4 separate regions of the Homo sapiens genome follow, and regions 1, 2 and 4 are each linked to region 3. Evidence: fine-mapped expression QTL. A gene starts in region 3. Each other region holds a variant in brackets. All regions are shown on one strand. Distances are between the middles of the regions.

Evidence for each region.
Region 1: its variant is fine-mapped to the expression of LINC03000 in caudate (GTEx, PIP above 0.99).
Region 2: its variant is fine-mapped to the expression of LINC03000 in prefrontal cortex (ROSMAP, PIP 0.95).
Region 4: its variant is fine-mapped to the expression of LINC03000 in testis (GTEx, PIP above 0.99).

Annotation. Positions count from the first base shown.
Region 1 is chr5:164,351,385-164,357,571 of GRCh38, forward strand. It overlaps LINC03000 (long intergenic non-protein coding RNA 3000), which reads left to right. Exons shown (of 5, transcript XR_001742489.2): 2 at 2,757-2,840. Among named protein-coding and RNA genes, the nearest start is that of LINC03000, 58 kb to the left of the region's middle. The variant G/A (reference allele first, on the strand shown) is at 2,845.
Region 2 is chr5:164,268,903-164,275,089 of GRCh38, forward strand. No RefSeq gene overlaps it. Among named protein-coding and RNA genes, the nearest start is that of LINC03000, 25 kb to the right of the region's middle. The variant G/T (reference allele first, on the strand shown) is at 3,048.
Region 3 is chr5:164,294,324-164,300,510 of GRCh38, forward strand. LINC03000 (long intergenic non-protein coding RNA 3000) reads left to right here and starts at 2,382. Exons shown (of 5, transcript XR_001742489.2): 1 at 2,382-2,873.
Region 4 is chr5:164,466,543-164,472,729 of GRCh38, forward strand. The region is part of intron 2 of LINC03000 (long intergenic non-protein coding RNA 3000); the gene reads left to right. LINC02143 (long intergenic non-protein coding RNA 2143) reads right to left here and starts at 860. Exons shown (of 4, transcript NR_105064.1): 1 at 805-860. It overlaps LOC102546299 (a long non-coding RNA gene), which reads left to right and starts at 3,737. Exons shown (of 4, transcript NR_105065.1): 1 at 3,737-3,926. The variant A/G (reference allele first, on the strand shown) is at 3,692.

The DNA.
Region 1 (6,187 bases), 57 kb after region 3:
TAGCTGTCATTTGAACAAATGGTCTTAAGTACAGATTAGGCCCTGTACGGTCTGCTGCAAGGAATGTAACTGGCATCACTGTATTCATTGAGGATTTCAGTAGGGAAGAACTAAGAACTATGAAAAGTATCAAACGTGACTATGCCAACATAAATAGACATATTAAGTAACTAGAGAAATAATCTGTTTTATTTCTGGCTTTAATGTAAAAACTGACCTCAGATATAAACTCTCATGTTTAATCTTCAGAATCATTTTTCTGTCCTTACAAAGAGATTGAGAAGCTTGGGTGATCATTTTATTTAATGTCAAAGTCCTATTTTAAAAGCAATTATAAAATAGAGTAGCAAACAGATGTCCATTCTTTCAGTCCATTGTGATGAATCAAAACAAATCTATCATAACAATTGTATTAAACTATGTAATCTGCTCAGTGAAGCAAGTAAAATAAACCAACATAAACAATATCCAGAAGGTAGTGATTTCAGTAGTTATAATGAACGTATTATAATAGTCTCTCATGGCTAAAAATGTGAGGTCCTTGGAATCATATCATAGATATAATTCCAGTTTATCAATGAAGACTTTTTCAACTTCTCTGATTCTCAGTTTCCTCATCTCTGATATGTAAATAATAATCTATAACCTCCAGGATTAGTGACAAAAAGAAGATGAATACAAAGTGTCTAACCCAGTACACACCACATTGCTTCTTAAGAACTGCTATGGATTCTTACGTCTATTTTGCTTACTTGTTCTTTAAATTTTAATCTCAACTCAATCTGAGGGTGTGAATTCCATGAAAGGGCATCCAAAACCACTTATGAAAAATGCTTTATGTTGGTACATCATTGAGGACAGATACTACCTGCTAGCAAGTCCAAAGCCAGTTTTCTCTCCTGCTTTTGGTTGGGGGACTATTCCTCTGGTTAAATATTAGACAAAGGCCATGGGCGGTGGCTCATGCCTGTAATCCCAGCACTTTGAGAGGCCGAGGTTGGCAGATCACCTGAGGTCAGGAGTTTAAGACCAGCCTAGCCAACATGTCTCAGAAAAAAAAAATATATATTAGCTGGGCAGAATGAATGATAGGTGCCTGTAATCCCAGCTACCCTGTCTCAAAGAAAAAAAAAAAAAAAATTAGCTGGGCAGGATGATGGGTGTCTGTAATACCAGCTACTCCAGAGGCTGAGGTGGGAGAATCGCTTGAACCTGGGAGGCGGAGGTTTCAGTGAGCCAAGATTGTGCCATTGCACTCCAGCCTCCATCTCAAAAACAAACAAGCAAACAAAAAATTAGACCACCTAGCTGGAGTAGTTGGCTTACATCTAATTTTTTTTAAGCCTTTAAAAAGCCATCATACCCAGGAAGCTTCACTTAGGAACTGAGACCCACAGGGGAGAGGAAGATTTCCATCCCCCTAATTTATTCACACACTAAAGTTAAGCCATTAGCTAACTGGCCTGGGAGTTCACATGCCTGAAAGTGTGGCTTGCCTTTTTCTTGTCTGAGCACACATATTTGAACTGGGCTGTAATTATGAGAAAATATCATCTTTGGTGCCTCGGCTGGCAAAAGAAAAAAAAAAAAAGACAAAAAACAGGGTTGGAAACACTCAACGATTGGACTCACACCCAGAAAAGTCATTTTGTGCACACTCTTGCTTTAAATAAAAAGTATGTTTCAAATGTTATAGACAGATACATCTACTGAAAGATTTAAAACAAAAAGACTTAAAATTTCTTGTAGATCCCTTCAAGTATGCCTGAGTGTTTATTCTAAGTCCCTTATGTTATAATTAAAGCCTTACCTTCAAATATTTTCTCTGATTTCCTAAAATGATTTTGCTGTATTTTCCTCCCTCCCTGAGTAGATCTTTGCCTTAGAAAACTAATCTGCCAAAAGACATTCCTGCAGAGATATACTGCCAAGGCAGGAAAAAGAAAATAGTAAACGTTAGAGGCATTTTTACTGCTAAAGCCCCAGAAGCAACAATCTTATCTCTAAGTCTGTAACACAAGCACATTAATCTGATTTGCATGTCATCTAAACAGAGAATGGGTTTGGAGAGCTCTGTATCATCTCAAGTGAAAATTAGATTAGCAATGTGGTTTAATGTTGGCCAATAAAAGAGAGGAGAAAGTATGTTTAAATAATTTTAAGTTTAAAAGAGTAAAATAAATGGAAAATGTACAGATCTTTCTTTAAATAAAGAGTAGCTGCTGTTCTATCGCAATGATATGATACATTATAAAAGTATATAGCCTAACTTGATAAAGGAATAGGGATTGAGTCTATTTTTCTGAAACGGAATATAACTTTGGATCTTAAACACTCTCATGGATCTATAACAGCCATGAAAATATTCATTGGTCACTGTACCTAGGGCTTAAAATAAGTCAAAGAAGTGGATGACTGATGAAATCCCTACACATTTTACCTTGTGATATGCTTTCCTACATGTTTAATTTATGTAGAGCCCTTTGGGGAATATTGACTGTGTTTGCCAGAGACACATTTTTGAGTTCATCATGTCTTTTATCAATGTTATCACTTAAGAAAGTGGTATTACTGTTATATCAATATTTTATACAAACATAGGTCATTTCTAGTGACAAAAAGAACTTTAGTTACTAAACCACAGCTTCAGTTTGATTTTATTTTTCTGAGAAACACTTCGTATTACATCGAGTTTCAATTGGATTTTTTTCACATGTTAACATCTCTCAGAAAGATCATTTTTTATCATGTTCCAGATTGATTTCCACCATCAACACCTTTACCTCTTCCCGCCTGAAAATAAAATATGAAATATAACAAGTAAATCGCAATCTACCTTGGTAA[G/A]TAAAATGAATTTAATGATAAAGAACAAATTGGCTCAGGGCCCCCAATTCACTTGTTCAGAGGGAAGACACTAGGGTAAAGTTATACTTCCTTTGATTGCGTAACTTCAGATGTCATACAGTGTCACTTCTGCTTCATTTTATTGCTGAAGGCAGTTGTAAAGTTCTACCCAGCTCGAAGGGGAGAAAAAACAGACTCCACCTTTCAGTGAAGGACTGTCAATATAACACTGTAAGAAATGCACGTGGGACAGGTTATATATTCATTCACTCTTTTTTGGAAAATACAATGACCCCAGGGCTCCCCGCTAGTTGGGTAGAACACAGGCTAAATTTAAACCCTCACTTCCCTTCTTGGCTATCACCCTTGCACAGTGAACAACCTTCATAATCATACATGGAGGCCTTACTTAATGGGTCAAAAAGACCTTTGATATTACTTATGCCTCTCTTTACCGATGTGACTTGAGAAAGTTATTTGAATGTTCTTTTTCCAAATTTCCATACTGTATTGCAGTGAAAATGAAATGAGAAAATACGTTTAATGTGAATAACACAATGCTCGATATGAGTTTTCTCTTGTCCTTATGTGAACAAATCCATTAGATTTAACCATATAAAATTGCCATATTTGAAAGTAAAAAAAAATGGTTAAATATAGGCAATTTCACTAGATTTCCCAACATAATAAATTTTTATTGATAAATCACAGAAAATGTTTTCTTCTGTTAAACCGTAAAAGATCCTCAAATTGCATAGAAAATATGTCTTAAGCTATTTCTGATTTTAAACACAGATAACTTATGGACTTAATACTAGAAAACCAAATAAAACCTGTGATTAGAAGAATTGCCCAATTGCCTTTTTAACTGTTTGACTTTGGTTCCCCAATTCATTCTTAGTATAGGATGACTCAAAAATTCATAACTATATGAAAGCCTCTTCTATTATTGTCATGTTTTTAATTGGACTAAGATTAGTAATTTGCATGTTGGCTGGATAAAGGGATATCATAATATTTACTACTTTTTTTCCTCATATCTTTTTTCCCCTCAAATGTAAGTTTTCAAACAGCCTACTCTTCTTTTATTAAAGCTCATATCTTCTCTGAATTCTTTTGAGATCTGCTTCTCAATGTCTAAAAAGTCCATCGTTAGCTCAAATTTCCCGCCTCCGGGCATCAAGATTAGAACCCATATCTTCAGCAGTGACAGAAAAACCCATTAATCTGTTGTATCCCCCTGGCTCTCTGCCCAGTTTTGCACATTCAGAATGATTTACTGTATTGAAATTTTCCACATTATTCAGCATTGGCAATCCATCATCTGAGCAAATTATATATCTAGCCTCCCATCAGTCCAAATGTGTTTAGATAATGAAGCTTCTCCAAAGCTTCAGTCATCCCAAAACTGTGTTATAGAAAGGTGTGTAATTCACAAAGTCATTGGAAATGTATTATAAAGGAAGGAAGTTTCTCCTTCCTGAAAGTTTTTTTTATGTGCTAGAGAAAGAAATAAACTGTAAAGTCAATTAAGTTACTTCTTTCAAAAGGAATAAGAAAAAAATAGAAATGTGGAAAAATGAATAAATAAAAAAATTTCATATTTTATTCTTACTTGACACTTCAGCATATTTCTATTTACATTAAACCTTATTAATTGCTTAAAGGGTTATCTTTTGTTGTGGCATTGAAATGTGACCAATAGTCAATAAACAAAAGAAAATGACCGAAAATGACGCTGATGTATTTAGGGACAAACAGATCCCACCTGAAAGTTCAGTGTCTATTATGGCCAGTTATTGGTGAGGTTTGTTTTCCGTGTGGTTCTGTCTCTCAACACTCTTTCCCACAAAGCATTCTCAATACCTAGATTTTAAAAACTGAACATTCATGATTTTCGTCCGTTATATTTAGAGTGATCCTTTATTCCAGTCTGCTCAGAATGTTGTAGTTTATACCTGCTGTCCTGTAGCCTGTCTGATTATTGCCTAAGTCCATCTCAAAAGTATTCTGGTATGGACAATGATATATAAAATCCCTCTCTATTTAAAAATTATGTTACCCTCTTCTTGCTATGAAGTCCAAAAAGAGACAGACCCATTCATAACCAAAATAGATTAGATCTCTCCAATTAAATAGATCTCTCTCTGTATTGTTAGTGGAGAATTATGAAGAACAATAAGTTTGACATTAGTGTAGAGGATTTGTATAATATTTTAACAATTTACTCAAATTTAGTAATGAAGGGGACAAGAGGTAATGTTTTCATTCCTTTGACACAACTAAGATACAGGAATGAATAATGCAGATCACAGTTAAATTAGCCACTGAAGTCGAACCCTTCAGTTACAGGGTTTCCTCTCTTTCAACTGCTGATCTGTTGTTTCCATCATCTCTCTAATAACCCCAGCAAGTGACCTCCCACCTCTATTTGAACATTACTCCTCCTATACAAAACTTAAACCACCTCTGAAATTCTCCTAGGCAGACCTACCGGTTAATATAGAAGCTTCTCAACTTACAACAGAGCTACGTCCTGATAAACCTATTGTAAGTTGAAAATATCCTAAGTCAAAATTGGGCATTTAGTAGACATGATGGGATGTGAAAACACAACACAAAATATCCAAAAAATGCCGGCAACAGAATACACTATAGAATACTAGCTGCTTACCCTCCTGATCACAGGGCTGACTGACAGCTGTGGCTTACTGCCACTCCCCAGCATTGCAAGAGAGTATTGTACCACATATTACTAGCTTGGGAAAAAGATCAGAATTCAAAATTTGAAGTACGGTTTCACTTTCGCATCATCATGAAGTTGAAAAGTCCTAAGTCAAGCCATCCTAAGTTGGGGACTGGACTGTCTGTACGTTCTTTCTTGTTTTGAGCAGAAATCTATTTCCACATAACTTCTATTTGTAATTACAGATTGTACATTGTGGTCTCTTTCTTTATAAAGCAAGGCTTAGAATTTTGAAGTACTCAGTCATATTCTTCAAGAGTTTCTTTTCCTGCTTAAACACCTCCTTATGACTTTTTAAAAATCTTCCAATTATTTTTTTTTTTTCAGTACCTCTGGATAAGATTCAGTTTGTTAATATTTCATTTATAATGTGGTTCTCAGATGTATAGATTGTTTTATGAAGTTTATGTGATGTATTTGTTCCCCCCATTTAGCAAAGTTGGTGTGACATATAAAAATAAATAATAAATAATACTTATTTAATATTTAACTATATTCTACCATCTATGCTAAGAATTTCATATTCATTATTCTAAGAAGTAGTTACAGCACTAATTCTAAGAAGTAGTTACAGCAATTTTCCTATTATACAAAAGA
Region 2 (6,187 bases), 25 kb before region 3:
TCACAGGATATATAATTTGTACTTGATGGTTATTTTCTTTTAGTATTTGAAAATGTTCCCTCGCAGAGCATTTTCTTATCCCTTTTTCTAGTCTTCAGGCTCCCCTTATTATTCAGAAAACCTGTCTCTCAAGGATTTCAAATTATTGTATTTTTATGCAAACAATGTGTCTCCTTTCTGAAGCGCTTCCTTTAGTGCCATGTCGAGGGAGCCTTGCCTTTGTCAACAAAAATGCTCATTGGGACTCTTTCCCAAACATGACATCCAGTAGTACCTAGAATTTAAGAAAGTGGAAGCCTGACAACCTATTTTATAGCATTTATTTGCCTGTTATATATGTTACATTTCCATAAAGTTAGAACTGTTTTACATAAAACTGCATTTAAATTAATTTTAAAGCATTTGTGGGTACACTAGCATATGCACGTAAATAATTTTAAACATAGTTCTTAATTCTTGTGATGCGTTGGAATAATCTGAAGGCCTTTTTAAAAATGCTGATGCTGGGGCTCCATACCTACAAATTCTTACTCAGTTTGCTATGATGGGCTACAAGCTTTGTATTCTCCCATTCATAAAGGTCAAAACCTCAGGTCATTTTGGATTCCTCTCACATCTTCATTTCTTATATAATTAATTCCTGTATATGCTTCTGTGGAATTTTGGTCAATATTTACTTTTCCTTTCTGTATGCCTAACCATTATGCTAATTCACCCTCTCATTAATGTCTACTATTACCATAATAACAGTCTCCTAAATATTCTCTCTAATATTTCTCCTGGCATTAGGGCTATAATGGAAATGAATAATAGTTACTATTCACTAAGAATTTCCAATGTAAAGGGTATAGTGCTAGATATGCTAAGTCATTTAGACCTGACAATGACCTTGATATACAGATTTTATTTTCTTTCCCATATTACGCAGATGGAAACGGAAGCACTGATAGACTACAGGCCATCTTATCATGCTTAAAAGTGGAAAAACTGTGAGTAAAATTCAAATATATTTAATTTTTAAGTGTCTCCTCTTAAAATATTCTGTCTCTCATTCTCATTCTGTATGAAGTGTGATATGGTTCGGCTCTGTGTCCCCACCCAAATCTCATATCGAATTGTGATTCCCATTGTTGGAGGTGAGGCCTGGTGGGAGGTGATTCGGTCATGGGGGTGGTTTCTAATGGTTTAGCACCATCCCCCTAGTGCTATCTCCTGATACAGTTCTCAGGAGATTTATTGTTTGAAAGTATGTAACACCTCCCACTTCGCATGTGTGCACGCACTCTATCTCTTGCTTGTTCGCTCCCTCCCTCCCTCCCTCTCTCCTGCCAGCCATGTGAATATGTGCTTGCTTTCCCGTCACCTTCCGCCATGATTGTAAGTTTCCTGAAGCCTCCCCAGAAGCAGAAGCCTGTACAGCCCACAGAACTGTGAGCTGATTAAACCTCTTTTCTTTATAAATTAACCAGTCTCTGGTATGTCTTTATGGCAGTGTGAGAATGGACTAATACAAGGTGCATTCTTGTGTGACAATTTAATGTTTCTTTATCCTCTCTAGTGCATGCTTCCTGAGGGCAGAAATTTTATGTGCTTTTCACACAAAAATTGTTAAGTTTGCAGACTTTATTTAGTAAAAGTTGAATAATAGAATACTTTGCAATACAAGATAAAGTTTATTGGAAAGTTACAGCATTTTTTTTGTCTTCTCAGAGATTATATTTTTGTTTTAAGTCAGTAATGATCCTTCACCTTCATATTATTAATTTGTTTTGACTATCCACTATTTAAATGCAGTACAAAAATAAATGCCAGCTCCATAATAAAATCTCCATGATTCCAAATTAGTGAATAAAAACATTATGAATAAGATTATTTAGCTACCAAAATTGTCCCTTCAAAACTCAAATTATATTATATAATCATTAGATGCCGTCAGTACCATCTTAGGCATGTATTACTGTTAAAAGCTTAAAAATGATATTATTTTAAGAAGAAAATATGATTTTGGCTCTATCATATTATCTCAATGTTATATAAAGTATGCACAGAGAAAAAGACAGACAGGATGTTGCACTGAAATATTACCTGCTTGTGAGATGACAAGTGTTTTTTTTCTACCTTCTGCCTTCTGTTTTAAATTTTTTAATGGAAAATAATATCTTATACTTGAATGGAAAACAGAAAGCTTATTTTTAAAAAGGAATATTTTATAAATAACTACAGATTACTCAAGAAAATTGAAGGTAAATATTCTAGGAAAACCAAAAGAAGTTTATGACTTCTCATTTTAAGTATCACAACCAAACAAACAAACAATAATGGGGATGAAGGCCAAGTAAATTTTATTATCGACTGAAGAATATTAGTGTTTTGGCCATGACAGAAAGTTTGAAAATATCATAAATATTGAAACAAGGGAATGACAAAAAATGTCAGAGATAAGACCCAAGAAATACCTCTTACTATTTTCTATTAACAGAAGGTTACTAAAACATTCATAGCCCAAGGCCCTACTGGGCTAATTTTTTTTTTTTTGGAAGATGCTACAGCAGCACAAAAACCCACTGGTAGATATCTCTGAATATACTCTATGAGCCGAAGGAGCAATATTTAAAGCATAACAAAGCTATTTTTATATATGTATGGACCATCTAAACATTTACACGATTTACAGATAAATTTATGCCAGCTCCATAATAAAAGCTCCATGATTCCAAATTAGTGCTAAAAACATTATGAACAAGATTATTTAGCTACCAAAATTGTCCCTTCAAAACTCATATTATATAATGATTAGATGCCATCAGTACCATCTCAGGTATGTATTACTGTTAAAAGCTTAAAAATGATACTATTTTAAGAAGGAAAATATGATTTTGGCTCTAGTATCATTATTAACAGAAAAATACTTAGTATAGAATAGATTAAAATGCTGAAAAGAGGTTTTAATGACCAGTTCATTACAATTCCCTAAAATCTAGCAGTAAAAAATAAACTATGAGGATATGAATTATAAAATGTTCATTAAGCAACTTTTCAAATACTGA[G/T]TCCCTAGTGTGAGTTGTAAAGGCACATGTTTCTGGCAGAGGGTAGGGTATCTGCACACACCCAAAAGCAGACATCTTCAAGCTTGTGAATATTTGAAAGATGTGGTACACAGCATGATGAGAAAGGAAAGTTCAGCGAGATAGGACCCTGTAAACTATATTCAGAGAAGAGAGTTACAGGACAGAATTCAAATTTTTCACACTGTCTTGTGATAAACAGATATAATTGGTGTGGAGGAGTGGCAGGTGTATCAGTCAGGGTCTAGCAGGAAATAGATGGTACAGTCAAAGGGGACAAAAGGCACTTCATAATCACTTTTTCAAAGGTGGGGTCAGGGTTAAAGAAAGCCAACACAGGTTGTTGAAAGCTCCAAGGCCTAGCAGCAGCTTAAAGGGGCAAGGAAAGAACTCACAGGAACCTAGGAAAAAACTATAGTTGCCAAAGGTGTGGTAATAGAAGCTGTGACTGTAAGATAGGGAAGTCATCATTGTCCAACCACTGCCCATTAAGGGAGCAAAAGGGGACTAAATCCCCTAAGGTCCCATCTCCTGCAGGTGAATTCACATTTGCCAAACCCAGCAAAAGCCCAAGCCTGTGAATGCCATTATGGCAGTTAGCCTCCAGAAGCCTAAAGCACGATACAAGGGTAGATGATAGATCTGGAGGTGCAAATGGAAAATATCTAGGGTAGGCTGTGCTGAGAGGCAGAAAGAGAAAGGAGTCCAAAGCAGTGGTCAGAGTTAGGAATGATGGTGTTGAGACTGGAGAGATGGTCGGAAAAGGAGAGAAGTCAGAGAATTTGTGGATGGGAATTTTCAGAACAGATATCTCTTTCTAAACCATTCCCTTTTCTAGTTACATTGTCTTTAAGTTGACAAGAATGATACAGCAATTGTGAATTTTTTGATAAATGACGACTATAAGTATCATTAACACATAACTATTTTATCACTACCTTAGATGTTTAATTTTATAGAGCCCTACCTGCCAAGTATTAAGTGACTTCATGTTTATTCCTTTTAACACCCATGTGAGGTAGATATAATTATTTCTATTTAAGATATAATTTGTTTTTGAGACAGGGTCTTGCTCTGTCATCCAGGCTGCAGTATAGTGGCACCATCTCAGCTCACTTCAACGTTTTCGCTTCCCAGGCTCAAGTGATTCTCCCACCTCAGCCTCCTGAGTCACTGGGACCACAGGCACATGCCACCACGCCTGGCTAATATTGTATTTTATGTAGAGACAGGGTTTTGCCATGTTGCTCAGGCTGGTCTTGAACTCCTGGACTCAAGGGATCTACCCACCTCAGCCTCCCAAAATGCTGGGATTACAGGCGTGAGCCACAGCACCTGGCCAGAAATGGAAGATTAAATCATTTGTTCAAGTCAGAGAGGGAGCCACCATTTGACCACATGGCCACCATATTATCTTGCCTCACCAGTCTGCCACGCTGTTGCTCTATCTCCTATACGGGTTTCTAGGTTTGATGCTGTGGACTTGAAAAGTATGTATAAATCTCAACCTTGACTTTGAATGTGTAATCTAACTGGGGAATGGGACACATATCCAAAGTGATACACGATGGCACACAATTACATAATAATGACTGAATGGGTGGTATGGTTCATTTCAGAGGAGTAAGGATGTCATCACTGAAGGGAGGGGACAATCTGCATGAAATAAAAATTAGACTCTGTCCTACAGTTTTAGGAAGAGATTTGATTATCACAATTATATGACTGTCCATACATACATACACAGACACAGAGATATCCAATATGGATATTTATTACAATATCTGTTCTGTACTGTCAAGGCACAAATATAGTTCCACCTATAGTATATTTTTAACAACAATTCAAAATTTTATCTGACCTACTTATATGAGCCTTGTCCCTGCATTGCATTACCAAACTGGCTGAAAACTTCAGACTATATTTATTCCAAAAGCTGTCATTTTTATTCTGCATACCAGGGAGAAGGAGAAACAGGGTTATTTGCTGAATAGTACCTCTTACTTTTGGGATGCCTGATGCTATTACTTCAGCAGACTGGTCTGTCCTGGTCTAAGTCGCAATTTTCAACTGTGTGCCAGTGTCCTTGCTGGTTGTTTCTTGCCTGTACCAAAGTTGTGTTGCATCCTTGGGAAGCATGATCATAGGTGTCTTGCTTCACAGTTGCAAACTCGGGCATTGTCTTTCAAAGCACTAGTACTTTGCAGGGCTGCTGGGTGCCCAGTGCATGAGACCTGACCTCGATCAAAAATTCCTGACACTCTTCTTAGTCAAGGTTTCCAGCACAAATTCCCCCACCTTCCTAAAAAGTCTTATTTTGGATATTCTCGTATGTATGTATGTGTGTGTGTGTGTGTGTGTGTGTGTGTGTGTGTGTGTGTGTGTATACACATATATATACTATCTCTTCTTAGGAAACAAGCTCTGTATACTAAGGATATGAGACACTATTTTTTAATCCACTGCGGCAAATAAGGGCCTATTTTTCTGCACTTACAAAGTTAAGTGGGCTGCACTGTTAACTTTTCACAGGTTTTGAAAGTATAATCACTAAAAATTTTTAATTAAAAAATTTAACTCTATACTTAATAATAATGTATACTCCAAGATAACTAAAAGAAAAGATTTTAAATGTTCTCACCACAAATAAGTTATAAATATTTGGGATGATGGATATGCTAAGTAGCCGTATTTGGTCATCCCAAAATGTATACATGTATGCACACAGCACATCAATATATACAATTATTTGTCAATAAAAAATAAAATAAAACTTTAAAAAGCATAATTTAAAAATTTTATTATTTTATTTTTTCATAATAAAAGTTTAAAAAATAAAAAAGTAGGCCGGGCGCAGTGGCTCACACCTGTAATCCCAGTACTTTGGGAGATCGAGGTTGGCAGATCACAATGTCAAGAGATCGAGACCATCCTGGCCAACATGGTGAAACCCTGTCTCTACTAAAAGTACAAAAATTAGCTGGGTGTGGTGGCATGTGCCTGTCGTCCTGGGTACTCAGGAGGCTGAGGCAGGAGAGTCGCTTAAATCCAGGAGGTGGAGGTTGCAGTGAGCCAAGATCATGCCACTGCACTCCAGCCTGGCAACAGAGTGAGACTCAGTC
Region 3 (6,187 bases):
GTGAATTGAGGTTATAATAATAATATACTCCTCATAAAGCTGTTGTGAAGATCACATGAGTTCATACATTATAAAAACTTAAAGGAGGATAGGGCATAGGGTAAACACACCCATGGGCAAATGTTAGCTATTAAAATACAACACTTATTATCACAGACTGAAGTGAGAGAAAGCTATACAGCATAGCTTATTATTCTAGTTAGATCCTGAGAGGTAATAAGTGTAACAAAAACAAGAAGCTATTTAAATCTGTTGAGCTTGTGATATGTCCCTGGCTCAACAACAAATTGGCTTTCTAATAATCCCAATGGAATGTCAATGAAAATTAAATTGTTAGAACCATTTTAAATAAATAAATTGAAAGTTTGAAAATCTGGAATATGTAGAAATTTAATATGCCCTTAATATTTCCTATTCTTAATTTAGAAAAATACGTATCGCCAAACCGTGGAGTTTCACACGTGATATTAGGACTGTGGACAAGGAATTATATACTAAATGCTAAAGAACAGTGTTTTTTAATGTACATTAAGAATGTTTTGGTTACTAACAGAAAAGCATATCAAAGTGACTTAAAAAGTGATGTAACACATTGGTGCGCATAACTAGAAGTTGAGTTCCTGTTGGCTCTAAAGTTGTTTAATCCAAACCTACATTGATTTCTTCAAATATCTAGTTTCTTTCTTTGTCTCCAATTTGTCATATTCATCTTAAAACTGGACCCTAACTCATTGATTCATCACTGAACAATTTTTCCTCCATTCCGTTTCACTGGGCCAGTGTAAGAAACTATGCTGTTCTTGAGCCAGTGACTATCAGCAAGTGAACATCATGCCCGAATTGGTTCAGGTCTGGGTTTATTAACCAATTACTTCCAAGTATGATGCTGTTACCATGATAGGCTTAGACTCAACAGGGTCTGCTGCCCAACATGAAATCATTTCCCTAAATTACACGGTACTTCGCAATGGAATAAAGGTGAAACGGATGCTGTGATATCACTTACGATATCCATCAATCTTACTATGGCAGACACTATTATTTCCCCCATATTCCCTTGTTTTCTTCTTTTTAAGTAAAAGGCTCTTCAGGTTTTTAGCCATATACATGGCCATTTCACATAGACACTCTATTTTCCAGTCTTCCAGTCTCATTTGCAGTAAGCTCTGGCCATATGGTTAATTTCTAGTCAAAAACATGTCATGTTCAACTTCCAAGGTATGTCCTTAAATAGGGAACATATTGTCCTCATTCTTCTCAGCTCCTGAAGTTTGAATACCAATTTAGTGGCTAAAGCTTGAGATACTATCTTGGAGTGTGTTGCTAATGGTGGAGCAACAAGGAGCCTAGTTCCTGATATCATGGAGCTCATATCTAGCCCTGGAACACTTAGCTGCAGACTTCATTTTCATCAGGGATAGAAATAAAGTTATATTTTAGTCTAGCAACTATTTACTTCAGGTGTTTTGGCATTCATGGAAAAGTCTCATCCTAACTTATACTTAATTATTTTACCAAATACTGTTGCCTACATTATATGATTGTGCTTTAAAAGTCTCATCGTTACAGTATACATTGATTAGGACCAGTATTTGAGAGTGTGCATCTCAAAGTTCTGTATCCATAGTTTAGTAACCACCTGTAGTTTTGTTAGCATGAAAACAACTTCTGACTCTCTTTATGCAAATACCTGTAGGCCATTATCTGCTAAATCTTTCTTAAATATGTGGTATATATTAGCCTACGTTTATTTGTCTATTAATACTTGCAAAAGCCACAGCAAAACATGATGTATATAAGTAGGATGATTTTTTGTTATCAAAACTGAATGATAGCTATAGGAAACCAGTGAGTACCATTAATTCACTCTGTTCAATTCTTTGCACTTACCTTCTTTCAGACTCGTTCATCAGTTTCACTTTAGTTTATCTCAGTTTCTATTTTTGGCACCTGTGAGATATGGATGCTTTTTGTTTGTTTGCTCACCTCTCCCCAACCCTCCCTACTCAGTCCCTCAGGAATACTGAGACTAGAGAAATTCATCTTCCCCTACCATGAAAACATTTTTCTGGGGCCTAACATACCTGATCTTTATCTTCCAAAGTTAGAAAATTCAGTTACTTTGGCGACAGCTTGGGAATGAGGTAGGTTCTCCAAGTTTAGCAGAGTAGAAAACTATCTAAAATAGTTTTGTTCAGGGTGTCCAGACATTTAATAAAACATTTTTTACCCACAGAAAATGTGGTCCCTTAGAGGAGAAGCAAGGTCCTGAGCCAAACTTTATAATGTACGTTCCTAGGAGGGAAAGCGAGGGAAATTCAGTCCACCGCTCTGCCTGCCTGCCTGCCTGCCTGCCTGCCTGAGGAGTTGCAGTGCAGAGTATCATTGCAGCGCTTTTCCAGGGAGTAACGTGCTGCACTGGTTCAGGGCTTTGTCTTTATTCACAACACATTCATGTGCCTCAGCATGGGGGCAGCTGCACTGTTGCCTGCCAGCCTGTCCTCTTTGACTGCCGAATGAACCAAAGGATAACTCTCCATTCGTGAGAGAGAGTGAGCTACAGAGGAAGAAAGACCACGCAAAAGGGAGGGGGAGAGAGGGGGGCGAAGAGGATGTTCTCCGGCTCACTCCTACATTAGGTCTCTGTGCAAAGGCAGAGGCTGTGGGAGCAGCATCAAGCAAGACTTCGGGCAGTGATTCTAACTATTGCCTATGAACACCGTGGCTGGGACGACTTTGACGAGGCAATTTATTACTTACGCATAGAACACTGGCTGTGCTGAAACTGGGAGCGCAAACAGCCCCTTGTTTTCTAATTTAGAGACTTGCATCTTTTCGACACTCAACAGTATCAAGACACTCTGCTACTACAGGTAAGACGCAGTTAAGATTTGTCTATTTGTGACATCATTACACTTTAACACACTTTAAACTATGAATACTTTTTTTATATTGTGCCTGGTCTATGTTGAACTGCCTTTTTCCCTTCATATTAGCCTCTCTTCAAGTAAATAATTTCACTAAGAAAAAACTGCTGTTAAATGAAGGAACCACTACTAAATCTTTGCTAAGAGGAATCTACATAATTGTATTTCCATGAGCTCTGAGTTCACAGTTGGGAACTTGAACTTAAACTGGGATCTGGGATGCATTTCATAATATATATATATATTTTTTTTTTCTAAATGTACTGAATTATTCACTATCATTTGGATAAGCCAAAATTATTCTCTTGCTACAGTGCTGTGCTGTGTATATGTTTAGTGGCTTTTTTTTTTTTTTTAAACCTCATAGTTTGGGGAAACTAATGATGAGGCACATAACTTGTGGAGTTTGATCACATCATTACCATGTGGTGTAATCTACTCAGTCAGAAAGATGTGCTGTTCTAGCCTTTACTGAGAAGGTGTTATCTTGTGTACATACATATATCATCAATAGGTAGCATGAACATGTGAAATATTTGTAAGACTAAGAGAAAATGCAAGGATGGTGATAATTCACATGCTGTATGATATCATTGAGTCTCGAGTTTGCTTTACATAAAAATTACAAAATTACCTTTGTTTTTATAACTGGTCTCCATCTTCACTTGTCAGTTTTTACAAAATAAAATTAGCTTTCAGGTGAGGTCACTCGGAGTTGTTGATATAGCTGGGAAAACTGTAATCACAGAAACATATTAATAATGTGTTGAATGTCTATAGAGATATAGGAGTAATATTATCAAGAGGCTTGTACAATTTTCCTCTGCTCTGTTTTGATAAGAGCATCTCATAGTATTAGTCACTTGTAACTTGGATTGATTCTGCTGTCCCATTCAGGGTCCCAATGACTTGGAAGTAAAATTACATTGTTGTCTGTGATCAAAGCTAAAAGCTAGGAAGATTTAATAATAAAGTCTTCTTTCCTTGACATTTTTGCTTAAATTTACCCGATCTAATATATATATTTTTCTATCCATGTGTGTCTGAGGTGTTCTTTCTATTAACCGTATTTTATATAAGAGCTGCTCCTATTTGAATTCCTACACCTGAACTATTTAATTGCTGATAATTGGGCATCATTAGATTGACCCTTGGATAGCTAATGGCTTTAACTTTGACATACAATAAAATATGTAGCATAAGATTAAAGCAGCTCCTAGCAGAGCACATGTTTAACAGTGAAGTATTGTGAAAATAGAACCATTTGCATTTAAAAATACATAATTCATTGGAAGACTTGTGATTCTTGTTCTTGTGCATGACTTATTTCATTTCCAATTTCACTTACAAAAGGTTTAAGTCCTTGGGGAATGTATGTAAAATATTCATTTGACTGAGGGTGTGAAAATTAAAGGAGGAATGAATTATTACTACAGTGACTTTTTTTTAGGAGTTTTTGAAAGTTAGTAACTGGCATGAATGTAAAAAATTAATTTGAGAGTCTCTCCTAGGGTACACCAAAAAAAAGCAAGAAAATGTTGATGTGAAATATATGTCAATATGCGAAATTACTCAGAAGATGAAAGGGAATGAAAATAGAAAAGAGAAGTTTTACAGTCTGTAAAAGGAAGAATATTTTCAGTAAACATAAACTCTATACTCTTTCTTTTATGACTGATAAGGAAACAAGGTATCAAGAATAGTATTTATCCAACATGAATGAAATCCCAGTGGCCACATATGAGGTGCAAAAATAAATGTTCTTTTTACTTAGTTAATAAATTTGAATATACAATTACTGAAATTGTATCTTGCATGAAATATTTATTGAAGTTATAAAGTTAGAAAAGTCACTGACAAACTATTTCAAAGTTTATTAATATTCATATTCTTTATTCATATGATTTATATGTTTTCCTTTCTTCCTAAGGAATGCGTATACTCAACACAATAGTATATGTGCTTTGTTTTGAAACTTTTCAACATTAGTTTTAAAATTACTTACTAAAAATCGTTCAGACCAGTCATCTCATTTCTCCAAAAAGAGACATATTCTAGATTTTCTTCTTGGATATACTACAAAAGCACTAACTTTATATTTATACACATTAAAGCAATATGCATTGTTTAATGATTTATAACATTCAGTATTATGTTTGTTTCTCCAAACTTTCTAGTTTTTCCAACTGTTAGAACTTTACAAATGTCTTATAAGAGTAAATTCATTATTACTATGATTTTCAGGGTCTTGGAGTTGTAAACTGTTTTAGACAGAACCTTTTAAAAATTATTGGAGTAGTCATCTCATTAATAACACTTTTAAGTATTTTTTCAACAATTACCTGATATATTTTGGCAAGAATATGTCCCTCCTCTCAATTTCTTTAGAATTTCAACTTTTCTACTAGAGAAAGTTTGGAAAACTTTTCTTTCAATGTCACTTTATGTTTGAACTAGATCAGAAGTTGTAAACTTATCTGGATCTTTAGTAATGTCAGATTAGATAATATAGTTATTGTAATACTCTTTTTGACATGGGGGAGTTTTCATGTGATGCAGAACGTATTAGCTAAGGTGGAATTTGGTTAAGTTAGTTTTGAGGCTTTGGATGATGTAACAAAAGTTAAAAACAAAATATTTCATTTCCTTGCTATCTGAGGGGATATAAACTCTGTCCTCTGCAAGCATACTGCATCAATTATTTATAATTTGTTGAAATAGATTTTGTTTTCATTGATGTGGTATTGGTCTACTGAAATGTTTCTTCTTGATTTTCAACAGGAATTTTATTTTTATATTTCTGGGGGTATTACGTGAGTCTTTCACTGGAATCACGAACAGTTCCTTTGAAAGTCTCAACAATGTAAAAAAAAGACTGTAATCTCCAGTCCTTTTTCATGATGATATTAATATTGAAGCATGAATAGAAATAGCTACAACTAAAAATTCTGAAATAACAAGCAAGAATAAGTAATGAGAGACCTCCAGCTAGTTTTCTGGCTCAGTTACTTCACTTAAATATCTTCTTAGACTGTGGTGTGGATCCTGGAAGTCAAAGCTTCTTGCTGATCTCAGTGACATAGAACTGGCAAGAAACAGCTTCCTCATGCTGCCTGTAGGCACCAGTCAACACTGACCCTTAGGAAGAATTTTTTGGACTGAAATAATTGTTGTATTTTAAGTTATCTACAAGTAAAATACAATAGCCTGTTCAAGTAAGTTAAGAATTATCATAATTGTAAAATGCTGATTGGCTGTTT
Region 4 (6,187 bases), 170 kb after region 3:
AGGATGATGGAGTCTCGCTCTGTCACCCAGGCTGGAGTGAAGTGACACGATCTCGGCTCACTGCAAACTTCACCTCCTGGGTTCAAGCAATTCTCCCGCCTCAGCCTCCCGAGTAGCTGGGACTACAAGCGCGAGCCACTATACCCAGCTAATTTTTGTATTTTTAGTAGAGATGGGGTTTCTCCATGTTGGTGGGGTTGGTCTCTTAACTCCTGACCTCAAGTGATCCAACAACATCGGCCCCCCAAAGTGCTGAGATTACAGGCGTGAGCCACCGCACCCAGCCCAGATAAATGTATTCTTATTTCTTCCACTCTTCTCAAAACTATCTACGTTTTTGCCCAAAGCTTCCAATAGACCTTTCTCTCCCGCTATTTTTAACATTGATTTTATCGAGGCCAGTCTCTTTAGGAGTCAAGAGCTTGTAGACACTGTCCCTGTTTCAGTTGGTCACCGAAAATACTCAGTCCCCTCAACACCCCCTCTTCCTCATTTAGCCAGATTCTGCTTATTTTAAACATTCAACTTCCATCCCTCCTTCCCGCTGACTACCCACCACACTCTGTTCATTCGCTTCAACTCTCAATTGCTATTGTACTTTTATGCTGTTCCACACGATTTACCAGTTACTCATAATATGTCTTGTATTATTAATGGATATTTTACACATTCTAGCTTGCATCCCCCAACTAAAACACAAGCTTGCAGTGTCAGGAATTGTAAAAAACATTTCTATATCCCAAGGCAGTTCCAAACACGTCATGGCCAGAGTCCAGATCTCCATCAGGGCTGATCGCTATTCACCTATCAAGTCTTGGTTTCAAACACGCTCGTGAAGCCTTCGTCCTCTCTCAGTACCTGGCACATACCGGTATTATGGTCATTTCAGCCCGTTGTGTTGTCATCTTTTTCTGCTTTTCTTTTGTCTACCCACTAGGAGCAGAGCCTGATGAGGTAAAGGATTATGTATCTTATCATTACTATATCCTTAGTATTTAGCACAATGCCTAGTGGAGGATAGGGGCTCACTATGTATTTGCTAAATGAATAAGTCAATAATCTTGGTCTCCTTTCATTTATGCAGGCATAAGATATTTTTCCTTTATAAGAAGATTCAGAAAATCTGGATAAATTTTGAAAAAATTATCTGCTTAGATCTTTAAAACATAGGTAAAACCAAGTAAAATTTCTTATTGACATTTTGTTCTGTGCACAGAGAGTAATATAGTGGTTAAATAGACTTGAGCTTTGCAATCAAACATGTCTGCATTCTGATTCTGCATGACCTTGAGGAAGTTCCATAGCCTTCATAAGTCTCAGTGACCTCATAAAAAAGTGAGAATTGACTGACTACCTCACAGTGTTGTTGTAACAATTAAGTAGTGTAATGCATGTAGAACTCCTGGCAAATTGACTAGCACAGAATGAGGCTTCAGATCATTTTAATCAATTATTCTTTATTAAGGCAATTTAATAGGAGAAAAGACTAAATGTTATTTCTTGTGCTTCACAGATGTATTCCAGATGAATATACATTTAAAAATATACAAAGAATAAACACAGACAAGTAGAATACCTTTGATTACACAGCTACAAAAATCTGACCACCTTGAAATACTGTGTCAGGGTTAGCAAACTTCCTCTGTAAGGCCAAATAGTAAAAGTTTCAGGCTCTGTGAACTATATGATCTCTGCCACAACTATTGAACTCTGTCATCATAGCATAAAAGTAGCCAGAGACAACACATACACAAATGAGCATAGCTATGACCCAATGAAACATTATTTACTAAAACAGGTAGTGGGCCAGATTTGCCAATTATTGTACTATAATGGATACACTTTCTCTCACAAGAGAATTCTACCATAGGTAATAATTTTATATTTGTATATTTGTGCAATGATGCCAAAACGTAAATGAACAGAAATGTTTAAAAAACATGATGTTTTTTAAACATTGTTAAAAAACAAGACCAAAGCATAATGTTTAAGAAATGTGAATGTATATTTCCATCTTTAAAGGCATTTGAATACAGTACATGAAATTCAAAACCTCAGTTGTGAATTCGCTATTTACCAATGACAAGGTTTAAGTTCTTCAGTGGCCATGAGTAAGTTAAGTTTGTCATCACTTTTTGCCCTGGTGTAGTATTTTCCAAATAGTAAATGCTCAATTCACATGTACATTAAAGTAAATACTAAGAAAACCCTCACATGTAACTAGACACAATTCTATTCATGTATCTTTGAAATCAACTGGAGACATTATCAATTAATGCAAAGATCCTGGGCTTTCAATCCAAAGAAGCTTACCTCTCTGCTCCAGATGCTCATCTTGCTGGCTGTGTGTCTCCAGGTAAGTTCTGTAATGTGGCAGAAATAATATTTGTCTTAAAGCAATGGTTGTCAGCCAGAGTGCAGTTTTTCCCCCAGGGCACATTTGCAATGTCTGAAGACATTTTCAATTTTTTTTATTTATTTATTTTTTTTTTTTGAGACAGAGTCTTGCCCTGTTGCCCAGTCTGCAATGCAAGTGTGCAATCTCGGCTCACTGCAACCTCTGCCTCCCAGGCTCAAGAGATCCTCCCACCTCAGCCTCCTAAGTAACTGGGACTACAGGTGTGCACCATCACACCCAGCTAATTCTTATATTTCTTGTAGAGATGGGCTTTTGTCATTTTGCCCAGGCTGGTCTCCAGCTCCTGGGCTCAAGTGATCTTCCTGCCTCAGCCTCCCAAAGTGCTGGGATTACAGGTGTGAGCCACCGCACTCTGTCTCATTTTCACCATTTGGGATGAGAGACGTTACTGGTTTCTAATAAGTAGAGGCCAGAAATTGTGCTTAATATCTTACAATACCCAGGACAATCCCTACCCTGAAAGAATTATCCAGCCCAAAATGTCAATAGTTCCAAGTTGGGCAAACTCTGCTCTAAGGTTTTTGTGAGGATTAATTCACATAGTGCTCTAAAGGTTTAGCAGAATACTGGGCTCAATAAATCTTAACTGTTAATAAGACTGATTTCTATTGACTGGTAGAAAATATACCTTTATGCAAATTTCGAGTGAACACAAACATGTATAAAAATAAATGAACTCTCTATTTTTGGGGCTAGAAGCTTATTGAAGCATTTCTTTAGATTAAATAATAAAATTAATACCTAGTCATGTATGTATTGACATCTAGAATCCATATGCTCTTTGTGAGCCTTGAAAGGTTTTGAATGATACTTGACTATTCTGTCATTGCCATGGTAAATGTTTTATCTTGTTGTTAATATCTGACTTATTTAAAATTCATGTGGGAAATTTGAAAGTTCTATTTCCTATCTTGAAAATCAATGACAACTTAATCAATGCTGCTAAAACAAGCCCCAGTTCTTATGTAGTAGAAAAGTAAATAAGATGGAGAATTAAAAGTGACAGAATCTTCACATCAAGGACAGAGAGCATATTTCTATCTCGTTCTTCTATGTCTGCAGCCTGAAATATTCCATCTGCTTGCCTCTTTCCTCAGGGAATTGAAGCACCTTGAAAAGGATAAGAAAACTTCAACATTACAACGATGTTTCATATCATTAGGCTCAAATTAAGTAAATAACAGAATCCTAAGCTGATGACACATCCTGGGTTTGCACTAATCATAATTTGCAATCTCCATCATTGTCATCAGAACCTTTTTGCCTAGCAAC[A/G]TTCCTGCTGCTGCTTCTGTTCCGACCCTCTGGGTGCAACTGAAGGAGGAGGCAGTCAAAAGGAAAAACACAAATATCTCCAAGATGGCACTTACAAAAAGCAACAACAATGACAAAGTATAAATACAAACACACACCTTGAAGTTTATGTTCTTACTCAAATGCAAGCATCAACAATGGCCTACTGTCAGCAAGTTAAATGGCTGGGGCTGTTTCAGTCTCCCATTACATGAAGGTATGCAAGCTCATGCTAATACGTATCAGTTGGTACCAAATGAGTGAGTGAGTCAGGAGTGATGAATGAAGTGTGAGGGAAATTGCACTGTTCCTGTACCATCTAAAAGGGTAATGGATATTCAATTCTGCTTGTTTTTGGTCACTGCATATGAGTGCAGAGTGGTTAAGTCTTCCAATTTTTTTCTAAGACAGAAATCTGGAAAGGTTGACATAATTCCATCAAGGAATGAGATTGAAATAAATATATAAACAATTAAAAAGTAGTGTAAAATAGTACAACCACTCTGGAAAATTGGCATTTTCTAATGAAGTTAAATGTACACCTACCATAGGACAATTCTACTTCTAGATATTTACCTTAGATAAATGGAAACATATGTCTATGAAAATGATTTATATAAAATGTCACAGCAGCTGTTTTATCATAATAGCCCCAAACTGGAAACAACTACCACTTCTCTTCCAGCCATTATTCAGATGGCATGCTTCCCCACGCTTTGATTACTCTCCTTTGAATATTTTTCCATTTGTCTGCCTTCCATTCATAATGTAAGATTTTCAGTGTTGTTAGACAGTACAGAGCACAGTGAAGCTGGTCTCTGCTTTATATTACTTTCCATATTTTCACAGATGTAGTCAAAGAAAATGCTAGGTATTTTGTTACATGTTTTCATTGATTTATGTTTTTTAATAGATTCCTATTGAACATAGTTACTTAAATGGTTCAAACACTTACATATCTGCCTCTAATTATCTGCCTTTTTTATTCTATTCCTGTATAAAAACATTACTTGTTCTCTTACACTTTTGCTCAAACGGCATATTGCGATTCATTTTAATCTTGTTTGATTTGATTTACCCATTTCTGTAAGCTATTTAACTTTATTGAAATGCTCTCTGGTTGTGAGAGGCAATTTTATTTGGGACACCAGCATTGTAACTATCTCCATCCTGATGGGCATATACTATATGCTAGGTGCATTTATGTTAGTTATCCCACATCATCCATACAATGGGTAGATGGCCTTTTCCAAATTATAGTTTTATAGATGAGGAAGTTGAGGTTTAGAATAGTTTAAATCACTTGACTAAAGCTACACATCTGATAAATGGCGAAGCCAGAACTCTCTTCCAAGTGTAACAATTTCAAAATCCATATGCCTAATCATTATGATTTTATTTATCTGTAATTTGAAAATAGTCTCTTCTGATCATTCTAGCCATTGCTAAAATTTATAGTAAGACTTGGGTCAAAGTTCTAATGCTTTAAGAACACAATTCTTGAGTAACACACACACTTCTCACTTAGCTCAAGTAAGATAACAACCCACTAAATTTACAAAAACACATTTCACCCACCCTGTTTCTAAAACCTAGTCCAAAAGGATATAATTAAAGGCTTGAATGAACACACCTGGACTTCAGCATAATGATCATGTTTATTCATAGTTTCCAGTCTTGTTCTAGTCAACTCATATGTGTTTAGCCTAAGACATTTCTCTTGCCTGCACACACTGTCTTATTTCTGAAACCAGATTGCTTCTAAAAATTGATGTATATATTTAATGCAACAGCATTTCTAAGACTGATGTCCCATTGAGGAGCTAGGGTAACCTGTTGTGAATCTTTTGAATGCTAAAGGTTATGTTCCAGTCTATAGTTATCAATATTCGTCTTTCGAAAATGAGAGCTACCTTTTTCTTCTCAACTTTCTTGTGCCTCTCCTGTTGGTCCTTTATTCTCTTTGATTAATTCAATATCAAGTTTTCAATCTCATTGGTAAGTTTTCTCACTTTGGAACTTAGACAACCAAAGCCTGGCCACAAAGCCATTTATTCAGGGCAGAATGTTTCTCCCCAACCACTTTACCTGCATGGTGCTTCAACCACTTCTGTCAAGTGTTTGTTCCACTCTTGAGATGCTATGCTTTTGAAGGGATAAAAAACGTAGCTTGTTAACCTCAAGCACTTTTTTGTTTTCTTCTTGTAAATGTAAAAACCTTGAAAGATCTTTTGTTTGTCCTTGTGTCCTTATAAACATCAGGTCTTTGAATTTCAGCTTTCCTGAATTTATTTGTAACTCAAAACTTCTGTCTGTCTTTGTTCTTTATATGCATGCTTTAAAAAATCTAAGGTTAATATAGATTTCCTTATTCAACAATGTTTAAGAAAAATAAAACCTAGCATTTTAGAGTATTTATGAATTAGAAATTCTAACTGTCTTACAAACTTACCTAATATAAACCTTCTAAAAATTGTG